Regions from separate parts of the Homo sapiens genome. Here all the other regions are linked to region 1. The links come from fine-mapping of genetic effects on plasma protein levels. A gene starts in region 1. Each other region holds a variant in brackets. All regions are shown on one strand. Distances are between the middles of the regions. Region 1 holds the start of CEACAM20 (CEA cell adhesion molecule 20). Region 2 overlaps ZNF180 (zinc finger protein 180). Region 3 overlaps CEACAM20 (CEA cell adhesion molecule 20).

The links. PIP is the posterior inclusion probability: the model's chance that the variant is causal. The UK Biobank Pharma Proteomics Project read protein levels with antibody pairs (Olink). The fine-mapping took linkage between variants from a reference panel, not from the people measured, so its PIPs are less certain.
Region 2: its variant is fine-mapped to the plasma level of the CEACAM20 protein (UK Biobank, PIP above 0.99).
Region 3: its variant is fine-mapped to the plasma level of the CEACAM20 protein (UK Biobank, PIP above 0.99).

The regions. Positions count from the first base shown.
Region 1 is chr19:44,528,051-44,530,811 of GRCh38, forward strand. It overlaps CEACAM20 (CEA cell adhesion molecule 20), which reads right to left and starts at 1,625. Exons shown (of 12, transcript NM_001102597.3): 1 at 1,408-1,625. The coding sequence starts at 1,459.
Region 2 is chr19:44,496,084-44,498,844 of GRCh38, forward strand. ZNF180 (zinc finger protein 180) reads right to left here. Exons shown (of 5, transcript NM_001278509.3): 2 at 1,201-1,294. The coding sequence starts at 1,251. Among named protein-coding and RNA genes, the nearest start is that of ZNF180, 3.1 kb to the right of the region's middle. The variant T/C (reference allele first, on the strand shown) is at 1,484.
Region 3 is chr19:44,517,552-44,520,312 of GRCh38, forward strand. All of the region lies in intron 5 of CEACAM20 (CEA cell adhesion molecule 20), which reads right to left. Among named protein-coding and RNA genes, the nearest start is that of CEACAM20, 11 kb to the right of the region's middle. The variant T/C (reference allele first, on the strand shown) is at 1,112.

The sequences.
Region 1 (2,761 bases):
TGTGTATTTACCCAGTTCTTTCCCTGTCTCTTTGTCCTCTGTCTCCCTCTCTTTCTGCCCCTTCCTGTTTTTCCCACTGGTATCTCTTTCTTTCTTTTCTTTCTTTCTTTTCTTTCTTTCCTTTCTTTCTTTCCTTTCTTTCTTTCCTTTCTTTCTCTCTCTCCCTTTCCCTCTTTCTTTCTTCTTTTTCTTTTTTTTGACAGAGTCTTACTCTGTCACACAGGCTGGAGTGTAATGGCACAATCTCGGTTCACTGCAACTTCTGCCTCCCAGGTTCAAGCAATTATCTGCCTCAGCCTCCCGAGTAGCTGGGATTACAGGTGCCCGCCACCACACTCAGCTAATTTTCGTATTTTTAGTAGAGACGGTTTCACCATCTTGGCTAGGCTGGTCTTGAACTCCTGACTGCGTGATCCACCCGCCTTGGCCCCCCAAAGTGCTGGGATTACAGGCGTGAGCCACTGTGCCTGGGCCCCACTGGTATCATTTCTAAGGTTATTTTTTCACCCTTTGTCTCTGTCTCTGTGCGTATCTCTTCTCCCTGTATTTCTCTCTCTTTCTCCCTGGGTCTCTGGTTCTGTGGCTGTGACTCCATCTTTCTCTGTCTCTCTCTCTTTCTCTGTGTACACAGACACACAAACACACATCTTTGTCTTTCTCTCTTGTCTCTGGTCTCTGTTTATGTCTCCTTCTGTCAGTCTCTTGCATCTGTATTTTTTTCTGTCTCTGTCTCTCTGTGTCTGTTTCTCTCTCTGCCTCTGTCACTCTTTCCTCAAGTATACACACACACACACACACCACTGACAAATATACATATATCTTTGTCTCTCTGTCTCTGGTCTCTGTTTATGTCTCCTTCTATCTCTTTTGTATCTATGTTTATTTCTGTATTTCTCTCTTTCTTTCTTTTTTTTTTTTTTTTTTTTGAGACAGGGTCTTGCTGTGTCACTCAAACTAGAGTGCTATGGTGTCATCTCAGCTCACTGCAGCTTCCACCTCCGAGTTCAAGGTTCAAGTGATTCTCCTACCTCAGCCTCCCAAATAGCTGGGACTATAGGAGTGTACCACCACACCCAGCTAATTTTTGTATTTTTAGTAGAGACGGGGGTTTGCCATGCTGGCCAGGCTGGTCTCAAACTCCTGGCCTCAAGTGATCCACCCACCTCGGCCTCCCAAAGTGCTGGGATTACAGATGTGAGCCACCACGCCTGGCCCTATCTTTATATCTGTATCTGTCTTTATTTCTGTCTCTGTCTCTGTGTCTCTATTTTTTTTCTCTGCCTCCATCTCTTTTTCCTCGAGTGCACACACACACACACACACACACACACACACACACACACACCGCTGACAAATAGATGCATACAACCTCCCTCCTCCCGCATCTGAAGGAAGCAGGGCACTCACCTGAAAGCAGGATTCCCATCCAGTGGTGTCCCCATGAGTCAGCAGGCCCCATGGGTCCCGGCACCTGACTTCAGTGTGCCAGGCCGTCTGTCGCCCCGGCTTGCACACACAGATACAGTCCTCACTCCAGGTGCAGCCCCTCCACCTCCCTTCTCTCCTCTCCCACCCTGCTACAAACTCACACACACACTGCAGTAACTGCAGCTCCCAGGACAGACAGGGGTGGTGGCAGGAAAGTAACTTTGACCCCACCTCTGCCCTCTACCCCCAGGGCTCACTTTCCTTCCCTGCCCAGCACAAAGAGCGGGAAGTCCAGGAACCCTGGAGACCGGGAACTGCGATTACGATAGTCAATAGCAATGATAATAAAAAACAACAATGACCAGCTCCTTGTCCCCGAGAGCTTAATAACCAGTCCCAGTGCCAAGTTCATTATAAGCAGCCAATAAATATTAAATGAGCCGGAATCATGCTTGTGATATAGATCCTGGTCATAAACAAAAGCTCTGGAGTCAGACCGGCAGGAATCTCAGACTGAGCAGGACTGGGGGACCTCCAGGAGGAGCCTGACGTGGTCTTGGGAGAAGGGGCAGGGAGGGCCTCCTGGAGGAGTGGACATCTGAGCTGAAACTTCGAGAACATAGTAAAGGTTCCATATATAAAAGTTACTTAAAAAAAAATCTCTATGACAAGACAAGCTGGTGGTCTTTGACAGTGTATAGACCTAGACCCAGAAGATTTAACAGAACCGACCAGCTGAGGGAACTATCATTAATCCATGTATCCATCCATTAATTTAACAAATACTTCCTGAATTCTCTTCCTTTTTTTTTTTTTTGAGATGGAGTCTTGCTCTGTTGCCCAGGCTGGAGTGCAGTGGCATGATTTCCCCTCCCTGCAACCTCCACCTCCCAGGCTCAAGTAATTCTCCTGCCTCAGCCTGCCTAGTAGCTGCAACTACAGGCGTGCGCCTCCACACCCAGCTAATTTTTGTATTTTTAGTAGAGACGGAATTTCACCACGTAGCCCAGGCTGGTCTTCAACTCATGAGCTCAAGCAATCCGCCCGCCTCAGCCTCCCGAAGTGCTGGGATTACAGACGTGAGCCGTCGCGCCCAGTCCTGAATTCTCTCCTATGCTGACCCCTGCTCCTGGTGGTACTGGGGACACAGCTCTGACTAAGACAGCCCCAACCCTGTTCTCACAGAGGCTCACAGTCCAGTGGGGGAGACAGAACTGTCCCCAGACAGTGACAACCCAGAGTGGGCAGGGCTGGGATGGAGGAATTCAAAGGGGGCGCCTGGCTCAGCTTCAGGATCAGGGAGAGCTTCCTGGAAGAGGGGACATGGTAGCTG
Region 2 (2,761 bases), 32 kb before region 1:
TCATAGCTTACTACATCCTAGACCTCCTGGGCTCAGGCGATCCTCCCACCTCACCCACTCAAGTATCTGGGACTATAGGTGGACACCACTATCCTGGCTAATTTTTAAAATTTTTTATAGAGACAGGGTCTCACTATGTTGCCCAGGCTGGTCCTGTACTCCTGGCCTCAAGCAATCCTCCCACCTCGGCCTCCCAAAGTACTGGGATTATAGGTGTGAACCACTGTGCTTGGCCAATTGTCAATATTTTTACCTTAAAGTGTACTGTACAAAAATATGAAAATACAAGCCAGGTGTGGTAGCTTATATCTGTAATCCTAGCACTTTGGGAAGTTGAGGTGGGAGGATGGCTTGAAGCCAGGAGTTCGAGACCAGCCTGGAAAACATAGTGAGATATCGTTTCTACAAAAAATTTTTAAAATACACACACACAAAAAATATAAGCCAGGCTTGGTGGTGCCCACCTGTAGTCCCACCTATTCAGGCGGCTGAGGCAGGAGGATGGCTTGAGCCCAGAAGTTTGAGGCGGCAGTGAGCTAGGATTGTGTCACTGCACTCCAACCTGGACGACAGAGCAAGACTCTGTCTCAAAAAAAAAAAAAAAAAAAAAAAAAGAAGAAAGAAAAGAAAAAGAAAATACAGATAAATAAATGATAAAACAACTACAGATAATGTTTGTTAACTGATTGCTATATTTATAGTCTTCTAACATATTTTCTATATACCCAAAAACTATATCTCTTTTTAAAAAGTGATGATTTCTAAGTGCAATTTACTTAACATAGGTAATAAATAACTTTTTCTGTCATTAAATTTGCATTATCATCAGTTTCAATGGCTACAGTGTATTCTATTTCATGGTCTTATCGTAATTCATTCAGCTATCCTCTTACATTGCACATTTAGTATATTTCCAATTGTTCATTCTCAAAGCTGTGAATTGCTGGCCAAAAGGGAATCAGCATTTTAAGGGCTTTTGATTCAGGATGCCAAATTCCTTCCAGAAAGAGTTATCTGGGCTAAAAAGGTGAGGCAACTAGCAGGGAGATTCATAAAATATATAGTAAGTGTTAGAAGCCTGATGGCCATGAGGGCCTCAAACCCCCTAAAAGGCTGCAAAGAGAGTCAGGGAGGAGCCACAGCCTCCCAAGCTGAGAGGGTCAGGCTGCAGACAGACCCAAGCTCTGGGTCTCCACTCACCTGTGCACAGACCTTCGGGGGCTCTGGGGGCTTCTCATCCTGCTCTTCCATGCTCTCCTCCAGGCACAGCAGGGTGCTGAGGTCCTGAGCTGCACTGAGAGAAGCCCCAAGTACAGCATGAAGATGTAGGTCTGCCGGAACCGCTGGGCCCCCCACCCCCATTAGCCCCTGCTCCCAGGATGCAGGATGCATTCCCATAGCAAATGCACTTCTGGAGGTTCCTGCCAGCTTCCTGCCCAAATACCTGTGTATGTACTGAGAGTCCCTCAGTCCCTCTCCCAGG[T/C]CAAGTTTCTGCAGCTCCAACCTGGTTCCTCCACCATCTTGGGCCCCTGGACCATCTACCTGTAAGCCCAGCTTGTGCCCAACATGGCCTTCTGCCCACCACCAAAGTCTGCAGCACCAGTCCATCCCTCTCCTATTCACTGGGCCCTGGGATCCCCACAAATATCAGGCATATTGAGGACCCCCTGGTGTTCACCCCATCCTACCCCTACCAACCTCAATCTACAGCCCCAAACCAGCACTTCTTCCTAGGGCCAGAATCACACTCACTGCCTAACTGCATGAAGCTGGTGACACAGCTCCACTGCTCCCAGGAACTGATTCAACAACTAAGACTGATCCTACCGTTCCATCAGCCAGACCTGTCCCTCCAGCAACTCAGCACAGAGGGCCACCCACATCCTGCTCAAATAGCCAAGCATTTATGCACAGAGCTCAGCTATACCCACATCCTGTTCCCTCCACACTTCTGGGGTCCACTGGCTCCTACTCGAACAGCACCAGCCAGATTCCCACCCTAACACCCTCCCAGGCCCTGAATTTGTAGCTCTAAACCAGTCCCTCCACCAACTTGGGTATACTCAGGCCTGAAACTACAACAAGGCCTGCATAGGGCTGGGGGCCTCCAACAGACACCAGCACAAGCCAGACAAAAGCAGCCCTACCCAGGCTCTAAATACATGTCTCAGAAGCTCAGGTGCCTCTGTACCAACTAGGTGTTTTGGGATCCAAGACTAGAGGGCAAATCCTACCCTAGGCACCCCACCCTCTGCACTCCATCTCTCCCACTTACTCTCTCCCCTGCTCCCACCATATTCTCACGCAGCATAGCGTAGGTTCACAATGCAGCTGTTTCCTGAAATTGCACCCAAACTGTTTCCTCCACCTTACTCCACAGCCCCCTGCTTGAGCCACACCTGCCCAGATTCTGACCAAACATCTTTCGGGGGCACCTGTGGCTCAGGAAGATCCTGTCTTTCCACCAAACTGGGCACCATCAGGCTGTGATCAGGGTTCCAATCACACAAAGACCCCAGCACCCTCTGTCTAAAACTCATCTCCGGCCTCCTGTTTCCCAACCAAACACCGGTGTGTGTGCACAAGGGGTGCCTGACACAGTCCCGCCCCTCTGCAGCTGCTCCCCCCCACACACCTGGGCATCCTCAGGCAGAATCAGGGTCCTAGGACTGCCCATGCCTCCCCAATCTGCCCAAATGCCAGCACACGTGCAGAGTGTTGCTGGAGCAGCCCCGTGCCTCCTAAGACCAGATCCAAACTG
Region 3 (2,761 bases), 10 kb before region 1:
CCGGGCGTAGTGGCACGCACCTGTAGTCCCAGCTACTCGGGAGGCTGAGGCTACAGAATTGCTTGAACATGGGTGGTGGAGGTTGCAGTGAGCCAAGCTCATGCCACTGCACTCCAGCCTGGGCGACAGAGCAAGATTCCATCTCAAAAAAAAAAAAAAAAGAAAAAAAACTGCCTTTGTAAAAGTTAATTCAAAGAAGTGTTTTAGGTCACCCAGGCATCAGAAATTGTTGCTAGGCCAAGCGCAGTGGCTCACACCTGTAATCTTAGCACTCTGGGAAGCCGAGGTAGGTGGATGTGAGTGGAACTCCTGAGACCAGGAGTTCAAAACCAGCCTGACCAGTGTGGCGAATCACGTCTCTACTGAAAAATAAAAATAAAAACTAGCTGGATGTGGTAGCACATGCCTGTAATTGCAGCTACTCGAGTGGCTAAGAATCACTTGAACCTGGGAGGCCGAAGTTGCAGTGAGGCAAGATTGTGCCACTGCACTCCGTCCTAGGTGATAGAGTGAGACTCAAAAGGAAAGAGGAAAGAAAGAAAGAAAGAAAGAAAGGAAGGAAGGAAGGAAGGAAGGAAGGAAGGAAGGAAGGAAGGAAGGAAGGAAGGAAGGAAGGAAGAAAGCAGGCAGGCAGGCAGGCAGGCAGGCAAGAAGGAAGGAAGGAAGGAGAGAGAGAGAGAGAGAAAGGAAGGAAGGAAGGAAGGAAGGAAAGGAGGGAAATTGTGGCTGCGTCCTGTGTATATAATCCCTAACTTCTAGTACTGTGTATTCTCAATGGTATAAACACGTGCAAATTTTCTTTGTAATGTCAGAGGGGATCATTGTCACTTTTCTCTTCCACCACATATAAGAAGGAAACAAATGAAAGTAGTTGTTGGATTTCTCATATAAATTAAAAGAGTTTAGGCCTGGGGCTGAGGCTCATGCCTGTAATCCCAGCACTTTGGGAGGCTGAGGCAGGGAGATCACTTGAGTTCAGGGATTCAAGACCAGCCTACGCAACATAGTAAGACCCTGTCTCTATTTAAAAAAAAAAACCTAAAAGAGTTTAAGAGTCATACTTTATTTAAATTAATGTAAAATACTGGAAAGGATGCAAAAGGTTGCTAAT[T/C]GAGACATTCTAGGAGGGGAGGAATACCCTGACTCTGCTCCCTCCTAAACATCATTTGAACCTGCTCATTTCTCCCCATCCTGACCCCATTGACACTTGGATCCTTCACCTGCATCCCAGCTCCTCCTGGTCTCCCCATCCCAGTCTCATCCTCCACACAGCAGCCAGAGAAGTCTTCCTAAGTACTAAAGTGTCACTGTCCCTCCTGTGTTCAGAACCCTCTGTGGCTCCCCAGTGCCCTTGGGACAAAGCCTATGTCTGAAGAGGCCATTTACAATTTGATTCTTACAGACCCCCTCCAGCCCCACCTTTCCACACCTCTTGCTCTCATTCAGGAATTAAATCCCACTCGGAGATTCCATCCTTGTTACACTCTCTCTTGCCTCAAGGCCATCGCACACTCTCTTCCCTCTGTCTAGAATGCTCTTCCCTGACTCTGCTCTAAGCAGCCTACTCCTACTCATCCTTCAGCTCTTATGGTGGACATCCCCATTCATGATGACCCTTTGCAACATCCCCCAGATGGAGGCTTCCTTTGGGCTCCCCATACCCTCCCTTTGTCCCCCGGGGTCCCATTTATCATGCTATGTTTTATCTGCCTGCTTAGTGACCTCCCCATCCCCAGCAGGCTGTGAAAGCTGAAAATCATGTCAAGTATCAAATGCCCAACATGTTGCTTAGCACAGAGAGAGCACAAAACATATATTTTTGGTTTAATGACTGAATTGAAAAGGAAAGAGGAGTGAGCAACAGAGAAGTGTAAAGAGGAGCAAAGACATGTACTCAACCCCTACCTCTGTGTTCCCTACTGCTTCGCATGTATGAAAGTGCACCCCTCCTTTCTCTCCCTGCAGAAACCTCTTCTCCCCCAATCTTCTCCATCTTGGTTCGTGACTCCTACATCCTTTCGGTGGCTCAGGCAATAAACCTTACAGTCATTCTTGACTCCTTTCTTTCTCTTTCACCTAATATCAGTCAGCAGCATATTCAAAATACATCCACAGTGCAACCATTTCTCAACACCCGACAGTTGCCATTCTGGTCCAGCCCTATCATCTCTTGCTGCGCAACTCTGGCCACCAGGAGAAGCTCTTCAAAGACCTCCAACGGCAGAAATGTAATTGACCAAGGGCCCAATTGCTGTGCCCCCAAATCTACTCCCAGCCCTTCCACAGGCTGCACCCTGCCAGTACCTGAGTGCATCCAGGAAACTAAGGCAGGCCCCTTCCTGGGAGATATGGAAGGTCCCAACAGCCATGATGGGTGTTCCTTCAAGTGCATGGTTATCCAGGTGCTTCCATTCAAGTCTCTGTCCCTCACCCTGTCACTCGGGGTCACACTTGCATCTCAGTCTCTCAGTCTGATGGCTCTCCCAGCCTCCCTGCAGCTGCCTCCCTAGTTATCCTCACAGGAGCATTTCCCCTAATAAAACCCTTGCATGAATAATCCCGTTAATCCCACCTTGGGGTCTGCTTCTCCAAGGATCTGGACAAATACAACTCCTTCTCTCACTCCCCCTCTCCCCCACTTCTATGTTTGCCTCCCTGTAGACAAAGGCCAGTGAGACCCTGTGAAAGCCTAAATCTGGTGGTGTCCCTAAGCCTTATCACCTGCTTCTCTGTTTATGGTCTGGCTTCTCCACTAGAACAT